Regions from separate parts of the Homo sapiens genome. Here region 2 is linked to region 1. Evidence: fine-mapped expression QTL. Tissue or cell type: whole blood. Region 1 holds a variant in brackets; the other region holds the start of a gene. All regions are shown on one strand. Distances are between the middles of the regions.

Region 1 (5,000 bases):
GAACTCCTGACCTCAGATGATCCACCAGCCTCAGCTTCCCAAAGTGCTGGGATTACAGGCGTGCGCCACTGTGCCCGACCTGCCAGTTTTTAATTTATTATGTTTTTTAAACGTTCAGTTTATTGAAAGTTTTCTTTTGTTTGGTTTGGTTTGGTTTTGTTTCTGAGAGAGTCTCACTCTGTCACCCAGGCTGGAGTACAGTGATGCGATCTGGGCTCACTTCAACCTCTGCCTCCCAGGTTCAAGAGATTCTCCTGCCTCAGCCTCCCGAGTTGCTGGGATTGCAGGTGCCCACCACCACACCCAACTAATTTTTTGTATATTTTAGTAGAGACGAGGGTTCACTATGTTGGCCAGGCTGGTCTGAAACTAACCTCAAGTGATCCACCCGCCTCAGCCTCCCAAAGTGCTGGGATTACAGGTGAAAGCCACTACACCTGGCTGAAAGTATTGAAAGTGAATTTCTTTGTCTTTTATCCTTCTCATCATTTTAGAGGTAACTGGAATACTTTTTTTTTTTTTTGCCATCCAATTCTTGAAATTGAGTAGCAAATTACTATTCTTGGTTACCACTGCCAGTTCACCCCCGTCTTAACTCTTGGATCTCAGGAGATAGGTATTTGGAACATTTTTAAATACTGTCAAAAAGACCTTCATCTTACTACTTTTTCCTAGCCTGGACCTTAATATTTAGTTTTATCAAATTTATATCTCATCAAGTTTTAGTGTATTCAAATAGGGAACGGAAGGAAAAGAAATGTGTGAAATCAAGAAAAATAGAGGCAAGAACCATGTTTAGGAGCACATGCCAATTAGTATGTTTGAAGCACAAATGAAGTCTTGTAAGGACCTTCAGGGCAATCTAATTTAATCCCTTCTCTAATGCATGATGGAAATGATCTGCTCACTAAACACCGATTACCTTTATTCCCTGAAAAACACACACACAGCCTGGTGTGGTGGCTCATGCCTGTAATCCCAGCACATTGGGAGGCCGAGGCCAGCAGATCACATGAGGCCAGGAGTTTCAGACCAGCCTGGCCAACATGGTGAAACCCCATCTTTACTAAAAACACGAAAATTAGCCAGTCGTAGTGTCGTGCGCCTGTAATACCAGCTACTCAGGAGGCTGAGGCACAAGAATCGTTGAACCCTGGAGGCATAGGTTGCAGGGAGCCAAGATCGCACCACTGCACTCCATCCTGAGTGATGGAGTAAGACTGTCTAAAGAGAAAAACACACACACACACATTGGAACACAGAAATGCCCATCCTCCATCCAGGCCAGGGTGGGTGTGAAGATGGGTGCCACAGAGAGCTAGTAACCTAGAAGTCAGAATGGAGTGGGGGTGGAGTTGGTGAGATACTGGTTTCGATGCTGCTGTCAAAAAGTTTGGATTACCCTAGTCAAGTGATTCCCTTTCTGTTTTGTGTTGTTATTGTTATTCCACTTTCCACTCTACCATTCTGCAGGTGTCTTTTGTTTTCGGAGTGCAAGTAGTATCACCTCAGTTTACTGAGTCAATAAGCTAGAGTCCTCCTCTGTAGAAATAATAGAGAATTGCTTCTCAAATTTATAACATTAATTAAACCTTAGTGGGAAGATTAAATTCACACTTGATCCAACTCTGACCATGGTGATAAATAACTACAGAATTTCACATTTCTGGATTATTTTTCCCCAGCCCAAAATGAGGATCTGAAGCTTGAAGTCACCAACATACTTCAGAAGCATAAACAGGAAGTAGAGCTCCTCCAAAATGCAGCCACAATTTCCCAACCTCCTGACAGGCAATCTGAACCAGCCACTCACCCAGCTGTATTGCAAGAGAACACTCAGATCGAGGTAAGAGCCTCTTTAAACAAACTAGTCCACTCTGCAGAGAGATCTCTGGCAAATATCTCTAGGGAAGATGATGAGATTAGAAAACTAACTAAATAATATTTTGTCCTGACTGAGGACACTCTTTTTTTTTTTGAGACAGAGTCTCGCTGTCGCCCAGGCTGGAGTGCAGTGGCGCGATCTCGGCTCACTGCAGGCTCCGCCCCCTGGGGTTCACGCCGTTCTCCTGCCTCAGCCTTCCGAGTAGCTGGGACTACAGGCACCCGCCACCTCGCCCGGTTAATTTTTTTGTATTTTTAGTAGAGACGGGGTTTCACCGTGTTAGCCAGGATGGTCTCGATCTCCTGACCTCGTGATCCGCCCACCTCGGCCTCCCAAAGTGCTGGGATTACAGGCGTAAGCCACC[G/A]CGCCCGGCCCACTCTTTTTTTTTTTTTTTTTTTTTGAGATGGAGTTTTGCTCTTGTTTCCCAGGCTGGAGTGCAATGGCGCGATCTCGGCTCACTACAGTCTTTGCCTCCCAGGTTTAAGCAATTCTCCTTCCTCAGCCTCCCGAGTAGCTGGGATTACAGGTGCTTGCCACCACAGCCGGCTAATTTTTTGTATTTTTAGTAGAGACAGGGTTTCGCCATTTTGGCCAGGCTGGTCTCGAACTCCTGACCTCTGGTGATCCGCCCAACTCAGCCTCCCAAAGTGCTGGGATTACAGGCACGTGCCACTGTGCCCTGCTTGAGGACACTTTTTGGAAAACTGTGAGAAGGCAGAGCGTAGAGAACTTCATGAGCTCCACCCATTTCTTCCACTCTTTGCAGCTCATAAAATTTAGAATCTTTTTCAGATGAGGACTTGAAAAGATCTGTGGAAGAGCAAACAGCCATTAGTGGCTGTATCATCTCCCTTCACTGCTGCTACTGAACATGAGAACTAGGGGAAAGAGCACTTGTGAAGTCATACAGGTCCTTGTTTACATTTTGGAGTAGTTTCTGCTGCTGGCATTTTACTACTACCAACAACTGTTTTATGGAGAATCATTATTACTTTACCTGTCATATTTATACTCCCTTTTACCAATGCGTTTCCCTCTACAGCCAAGTGAACCCAAAAACCAAGAAGAAAAGAAACTGTCCCAGGTGCTAAATGAGTTGCAAGTATCACACGCAGAGACCACATTGGAACTAGAAAAGACCAGGGACATGCTTATTCTGCAGCGCAAAATCAACGTGTGTTATCAGGTGCAAGGAAAGATGGTACAGGAAGGGGATGGATAACAGGAACGTGGGAACCACTCACAGGACTGGGAATGAAGCAAGACCTAAGTTTCCAGGGCTGATACCAGGTGATGTGCTATCCTGAGCAAACACACAATGGCTGTCCTTTGAAGAACTTGAGGACTCACACATGCCCACGGCACCTTGGCACTAGGAGCCAGTGATGGGGCCAGCCCATGCCAATGGCAAGCGTAAGGCTTCTGGGTTCAAATTTTGCCAGTCCTAGGAACCACCCTACCTCAATGATAGCACAACTAGTCTTGGAGGGGTCTGCAAGGAAATCAAACCTTCTTCTAGTGGGTGAACCTGCCCAGCTAAGGATAGCAGTCTTCTTGACCTAGCCAGTGCCACATTTTTTATGCTCTTTGGTTTTAGGCCACTGAGATAGAAAAGTTCAGACATTATTTTGTTTCAGGAGGAACTGGAGGCAATGATGACAAAAGCTGACAATGATAATAGAGATCACAAAGAAAAGCTGGAGAGGTTGACTCGACTACTAGACCTCAAGAATAACCGTATCAAGCAGCTGGAAGGTATTTTAAGAAGCCATGACCTTCCAACATCTGGCAAGTCTTAGTCCTTTGTTCTCCTCACTTCGGGACCCTTCCACAGCTAACGCCTGTGTTCCACTCTGTGTACTTGTCAAGAAGGGTGCCTCTCATACCCTTAGCATATGACTTATCCTTCTTGTTCTTTATCCTATCATTTTTGTTGTTTTTTTTTGCTTGTTTGCTTTTGAGATGGAGTCTTGCTCTGTCACTCAGGCTGGAGTGCAGTGGTGCGATCTTGGCTCACTGCAACCTCTGCCTTCCAGGTTCAAGCGATTCTCCTGCCTCAGCCTCCCAAGTAGCTGGGATGACAGTTGTCCACCACCATGCCTGGCTAATTTTTTGTATTTTTAGTAGAGATGGGGTTTCACCATGTTGGCCAGGTTGGTCTGGAACTTCTGACCTCAGGTGATCCACCTGCCTCAGCCTCCCAAAGTGATGGGATTACAGGTGCGAGCCACTGCGCCCGGCCCATCTTTGTTGTTTTAATACATGTTAGCAGCTTCTTTCCCTCCATCATGTTTTTCTGATTTCTCTGTAGAGTTTCAAGTGGGCCCAGCAATTGCTTCCAGGGGCTTAATTCTGTTGTGAGAATGAGTATCACTGTTGGCTCTCAGGGTGGTGGTGTAACACACAATCTCTCTCTCTCTCTCTCATTCTTTCTCTCTTGCTCCTCTCCCCTGTCCCTCTCTCCTAGTCACTGTTTCCTCAAAGCAGTTTTAGTCGGATAATAGAACTTCATCACTCATCTCCTGTTATTCTTGTCAGTGATTTCTCTCTTAAAAGCTCTAAAATCTTTGTTGCAATTTGAGGATGCTGACAGTGACAGGGCAGCTGGCTGGACACTGAATGCAAGTTTCATATTGTGGTGCCTCCTATACTTAGTGTAGTCACTGCTGACCAGAGCCTGGTCTCAGGCTTGTTTGTCAAGACACTTGGCTTTGTTATTATACCCAGTGGTGAAAGATCTGACTCACGAAAACCAAATTAACCAGAAGCTGATATTTAAACCCAAATGTTTGTTATTTTACAATAGTGGCTATTCCACTGCTTCCATGAGGAACTTGGAACCACAGTTCAGGGCAGCCCTCTTTCGGGAAGCAAAATCAGTAAGTAGGTTTCTTAGTGAGCATGGAATAGAATAAAGGGACATGGCTGGGCACGGTGGCTCACACCTGTAATCCCAGCACTTTGGGAGGACGAGGCGGGCGGATTGCCTGAGGTCAGGAGTTCGAGACCAGCCTGACCAACATGGTGAAACCCCATCGCTACTAAAAATAGAACAATTAGCTGGGCATGGTGGCGGGCACCTGTAACCCCAGATACTTAGGAGGCTGAGACAGGA
Region 2 (6,159 bases), 40 kb before region 1:
AGACAGGGTTTCACCATGTTGGCCAGGCTGGTTTCAAACTCCTGACCTTAGGTGATCCACCCACTTCGGCCTCCCAAAGTTCTGGGATTACAGGTGTGAGCCACCAAGCCTGGCCAATGACTGAAATTTCTTTTTGTTTTTTTTTGAGATGGAGTTTTGCTCTTGTTGCCCAGGCTGGAGTGCAATGGTGCAGTCTCGGCTCACTGCAACCTCCGCCTCTGGGGTTCAAGTGATTCTCACTGCCTCAGCCTGGTGAGTAGCTGGGATTACAGGTGCCTGCCACCACGCCCAGCTAATGTTTGTATTTTTAGTAGAGATGGGATTTCACCATGTTGGTCAGGCTGGTCTCGAATTCTTGACCTCAGGTGATCCACCCACCTCAGCCTCCCAAAGTGCTGGGATTGCAGGTGTGAGCCACCGTGCCCGGCCTGAAATTTCTTTAACACAGAACAAAGTCTTACTGTCTACATTGAGAAGTACATTAAGCCTAGTGGAAAAAGTATCACGTAAATTCACTCCAAGATGTAATGAGAATGTTAAGGGAAACTGGTTGCCTGAAAGAGGTAGGAGATGTTTTAAAAATTAACAAAAGTCAGCCGGGAATGGTGGCTCACGCCTGTAATACCAGCACTGTGGGAGGCTAAGGCGGGTGAATCACCTGAGGTCAGGAGGTCAAGACCAGCCAGGCCAACATAGTGAAACCTCATCTCTACTAAAAATACAAAAAATTAGCTGGGTGTGGTGGCGGGTGCCTGTAATCCCAGCCACTAGGGAGACTGAGGCAGGAGAATCTCTTGAACCCGGGAGGCAGAGGTTGCAGTGAGCCAAGATTGTGCCATTGCACACCAGCCTGGGCAACAAGAGCAAAACTCCGTCTCAAAAAAAAAAAAAAAAAAAAATTAACAAAAGTCAGAGGTTCAGAAAAGAGAACACGATTATCAAACACAAACTTGGCTTACTTCAAAATTAATTTTGTCCTGCACTGTCTCTGGCTAGAGCATCTTAAAAAAGGACAGAAAATCCCAGATTTATCAAGAAATAGCTTGGGCAAGAAGCAACCTTAAGTGCATAAAAGCCCAGCTTTTAAATTTTATAAATCTGTCATTTAAACCTGGTAAAATATTATATTGAATTTTCCTCTCTTCACTGGGAAATGTATGTGTCCTGGATACTTTCTCTACTTCCTAATTGTCTCCCTAGCTTTATTTTATTTTATTTTATTTTATTATTTCATGGGATTTAGAGGAAGTCACATGGGGCCCATTAACTATGTGTTCATCCTCCTGGAAATCCCCGAACCTCATGCCAATAACCAGAATGGAGCTTTCTCAATGCACCCATTCAGTGCATTAAAGAGAGGATTTAGGCCAGTCGTGGTGGCTCAGGCCTGTAATCCCAGCACTTTGGGAGGCCAAGGTAGGTGGATCACCTGAGGTCGGGAGTTCGAGACCAGCCTGACCAACATGGAGAAACCTTGTCTCTAGTAAAAATACAAAATTAGCTGGGCGTGGTGGCGCATGCCTGTAATCCCAGCTACTCAGGAGGCTGAGGCAGGAGAATTGCTTGAACCCGGGAGGCAGAGGTTGCAGTGAGCCGAGATCGCACCATTGCACTCCTGCCTAGGTAACAAGAGCGAAACTGCATCTCAAAATAAATAAATAAATAAAGAGGATTTTATGTAACAATTGAGACCGTATTCCACTTAATATATAATATGAATGCAGTGACCAGCCTTGCAGAATTTTTAAGAACATTTAATTTTCTTATATCAAATCCTATTGCTTCATAATTACATCCCAAAGTTTGGTTTCAAAACGGTGGTCACGGTGAAATGGAAGATATACATTCTCTTACTCGAAAGCACTGGCACATGTGGACTGAATAGGCATGTTGATCCCACCAACGGTGCAGTGTTTGTTCTCTTCAAAGGGATCTCAGGGCTTCAGAACAACTCCCACTGTTGTTGCCCTTCAGATAAAGATTTAAAGAATATCGGCCGGGCGCGGTGGCTCAAGCCTGTAATCCCAGCACTTTGGGAGGCCAAGGCGGGCAGATCACCTGAGGTCAGGAGTTCGAGACCAGCCTCAACATTGAGAAACTCCATCTCTACTAAAAATACAAAGTGAGCTGGCTGTGGTGGTGCATGCCTGTAATCCCAGCTACTCGGGAGGCTGAGGCAGGAGAATTGCTTGAACCTGGGAGGCAGAGGTTGCGGTGAGCCGAGATCGCGCCATTGCACTCCAGCCTGGGCAACAAGAGTGAAACTCTGTCTCAAAATAAATAAATAAATAAATAAAAGATTTAAAGATCATCCTCTGAATACCAACAAATTTCTTTTAATCTCAAATCCCGCAAATGTGTTCTCAGCTTTAGTTTTAGTTGAGAAGTGGATCTGTTAAGGACCCTTTAAGCTGCTCTTTCTCCAAGTCAAACATGCATAGAGAAAAAGCACAGCCTTCACACACTCTGATCTACAAAGAGTTAACATCTTAAAAGCTAAACAGAACTGGATTAGCTCCTCTTTTAACAAGCCAGAAGGACAAGCTTATTGGAACCTAGAGTACTAAAGGACACCAGAACATTGAGAGAAAAGAATTAGCGACAGCTATCTGGAGCAAGCAAGAACTGTAAGTTTCTATCTGATGCATATTTATAGTTTCCTATGTCTTCCCTAGGGGTGTTTTTGAGAAGAATGAAATAAGTTTATTCTTTTTTTTTTTTTTTTTTTTGAGACAGAGTCTTACTCTGTCGCCCAGGCTGGAGTGCACCGGCACTATCTCTGCTCACTGCAACCTCTGCCTCCCAGGTTCAAGCGATTCTCCTGCCTCAGCCTCCCAAGTAGCTGGGGACTACAGGCATGCGCCACCATTGCCCGGCTAATTTTTGTGTTTTTAGTAGAGACGGGGTTTCACCATGTTTGCCAGGCTGGTCTTGAACTCCTGACCTCAGGTGATTCACCCGCCTCGGCCTCCCAAAGTGCTGGGATTACTGGCATGAGCCACCGCGCCTGGCCTGGTTTATTCATTTTCTATTGTACCACCAGTCTCCCAGGCATCCAGCACAACATTACCAAGTCATCTTTAATCCTGTCACCCTCTTAACTCTATCTCACGTCCAACCAGTTGTCACATCTTTTGATTCTCCTTCCTCAGTGTCTTCATGATCCATCCTATTCTTCCATCCCCCACCCCCCTCCTTCCCTAGTTCAAGACTTCTTGCCTGAACTATAGCAATATCCTCTTAACACTGTTCTCTCCCCAATTTCCAAATCACTAATAGTAGATGAATCTTCCTAATGCTCTTCCATAGCTCTAATTATATTGCTCTTTTGCTCAGAAATGTATCCACTATCTGCAGAATGAATAAAACTCCTTTTCAAATTAATTAATTTTTAATTGACAATTTGAAATTGTATATATTTATTGTGTAAAATTTGTTGCTTTGAAATATATATATAGAGAGAGTGGAAAATGGCTACCTTGGGCTTTTCTTTTTTTTTTTTTTGAGACAGAATCTCTCTCTCTCGTGAGGCTGGAGTGCAGTGGCTCAATCTCGGCTCACTGCAACCTCTGCCTCCTGGGTTCAAACAATTCTCCTGCCTCAACCTCCCGAGTAGCTGGGACTACAGGTGCGCACCACCATGCCCAGCTAATTTTTGCATTTTTAGTAGAGACAGGGTTTTACCATGTTGGCCACGGCCAGGATGGTCTTGATCTCTTGATCTTGTGATCTGCCCGCCTTGGCCTCCCAAAGTGCTGGGATTACGGGCGTGAGCCACCACACCTGCCCAATCTTGGGCTAATTAAAATATGTATTACCTCATATGCTCATCAATTTTTTGTGTTTGATGAGAACACTTAAAAATCTACTCTTGGCCCAGGCGTGTTGGCTCACACCTGTAATCTCAGCATTTTGGGAGGCTGAGGCGGGTGGATCACTTGAGATCAGGAGTTCAAGACCAGTCTGGCCAACATGGCAAAACCCTGTCTCTACTAAGAATAGAAAAATTAGCTGGGCGTGGCGGCTTGCGCCTGTAATTGCAGCTGCCTGGGGGGCTGAGACATGAGAATTGCTTGAACCCTGGAGGCAGAGGTTGCAGTGAGGCGAGAGCATACCGCTGTACTCCAGCCTGGGCAACAGAGTGAGACCTTGTCTCAAAAAAAAAAAAAATAAATAATAATAATAATAATAATAATAATAATAATCAGAGTAAGGGGAACTGGCTACAAAATTTTAAATGCTTGCCCAGTGATACAGAGTGTAAAAAAGAAAAAAAAGAAGTCTGGGCAGGGTGGCTCATGCCTGTAATCCCAGCACGTTGGGAGACCGAGGCTGGCGGATCCCAAGGTCCGGAGTTCGAGACCAGCCTGGCCAAAATTGTGAAATCTTGTCTCTACTAAAAAATACAAAAAATTAGCTGGGCATGGTGGCAGGTGCCTGTAATCCCAGCTACTCTGGAGGCTGAGACAGGAGAATCGCTTGAACCCGGGAAGCGGAGGTTGCAGTAAACTGAGATTGCAACATTGCACTCCAGCCCAGGCAACAATGTGATACTCTGTCTCGAAAAAAGAGGAAAAGAAAATTTTAATTGCTGATGTCATCAAGCTGGCTTTATACGTCTATCCATCTATCACTAGTAAAGGGTTCTTCACCCTCACTAACCTATACTTGTCCAAGTGCACTGCAATTCTGAATATCACTGCAAGGAAATTTTTTTTTTTTTAAGACGGAGTCTTGCTCTGTCACCCGGCTGGAGTGCAGTGGCGTGATCTCACCTCACTGCAATCTCTGCCTCCCAGGTTCAAGCAATTCCCCTGCCTCAGCCTCCTGAGTACCTGGGACTACAGGCACGCACCACCATGCCTGGCTAATTTTTTTGTATTTTAGTAGAGACGGGGTTTCACTATGTTGACCAGGATGGTCTCGATCTCCTGACCTCATGATCAGCCCGCCTCAGCCTCCCATAGTGCTGGGATTACAGGCGTGAGCCACCACGCCGGGTGGAAGTTTCTTCAGTCTTTCATCCTGTTGAGTTCAAAACAATTGATAAACCCTTTTAGAATCTACATTCCATTTTTTTTTTTTTTTTTTTTTTGAGACAGAGTCTCGCTCTGTCTCCCAGGCTGGAGTGCAGTGGCGTGATCTCGGCTCACAGCAAGCTCCGCCTCCCAGGTTCACGCCATTCTCCTGCCTCAGCCTCCCCAGTAGCTGGGACTACAGGCGCGTGCCACCACACCCGGCTAATTTTTTGTATTTTGTAGTAGAGATGGAGTTTCACCACGTTAGCCAGGATAGTCTTGATCTCCTGACCTTGTGATCCACCCATCTCGGCCTCCCAAAGTGCTGGGATTACAGGCGTGAGCCACTGTGCCCGGCCTACATTCCACTTTTTCATTCCTGAGAAATTAAATCTGGCCACTGGATGTTCAACACGCCTTCACTGACAGTCTCAACTGGCTTTTCTTCTCTAGCATTCCAATAAACTCCATTTCATTCTTAGAGCTTCTGTGACTTCAGTTTTAATGATACTTTTCAATTGCTCCATAGTGCCATATAGCATTGGTGGTGCGTCAATGTGCTCTGGGCCCAGATATTAAGAACAACAGCATCCCTTCTACTACAGCTCCATTTTTGCAAATGGCTTCAGGTCCAGAGGACCAAGCTTATGATGCAGTCACCTTTCCTTTTCCTTCACATTACTTTTCTACAGTAGGAAACTAGGAAGGTGGGTGACTAAGTAAACCTGTAGATGCTACTCTATTTATTTTATTTATTATTATTATTTTTTGAGAAGCTGTCTCACACTGTCGCCCAGGCTGGAGTGCAATGGTGTAATCTTGGCTCACTGCAATCTCCGCCTCCTGTGCTCAAGCGATTCTCCTGCTTCAGCCTCCAGAGCAGCTGGGACTACAGGCATGAGCCACTACACCCAGCTAATTTTTGTATTTTTAGTAGAAATGGGGTTTCGCCATGTTAGCCAGGCTGGTCTCAAACTCCTGACCTTGTGATCTGCCCGCCTCGGCCTCCCAAAGTGCTGGGATTACAGGCATGAGCCACTGTGCCCAGCCCCTATATATGGTACTTCAAATGGAGATTTACTTGTAAACTAAATGCAGATTTACTTTTTTTTTTTTTTTAGACAGAGTCTCACTCTGCTTT

Evidence for each region. PIP is the estimated chance that this variant, and not a neighbour inherited with it, causes the effect. A credible set is the group of variants that fine-mapping cannot tell apart.
Region 2: RPGRIP1 starts here. The variant in region 1 is the best candidate, but not a certain one, in a credible set for the expression of RPGRIP1 in whole blood (TOPMed, PIP 0.51).

Annotation. Positions count from the first base shown.
Region 1 is chr14:21,318,332-21,323,331 of GRCh38, forward strand. It overlaps RPGRIP1 (RPGR interacting protein 1), which reads left to right. Exons shown (of 25, transcript NM_020366.4): 12 at 1,686-1,846; 13 at 2,928-3,071; 14 at 3,523-3,673. Among named protein-coding and RNA genes, the nearest start is that of RPGRIP1, 41 kb to the left of the region's middle. The variant G/A (reference allele first, on the strand shown) is at 2,250.
Region 2 is chr14:21,277,533-21,283,691 of GRCh38, forward strand. RPGRIP1 (RPGR interacting protein 1) reads left to right here and starts at 2,551. Exons shown (of 25, transcript NM_020366.4): 1 at 2,551-2,627.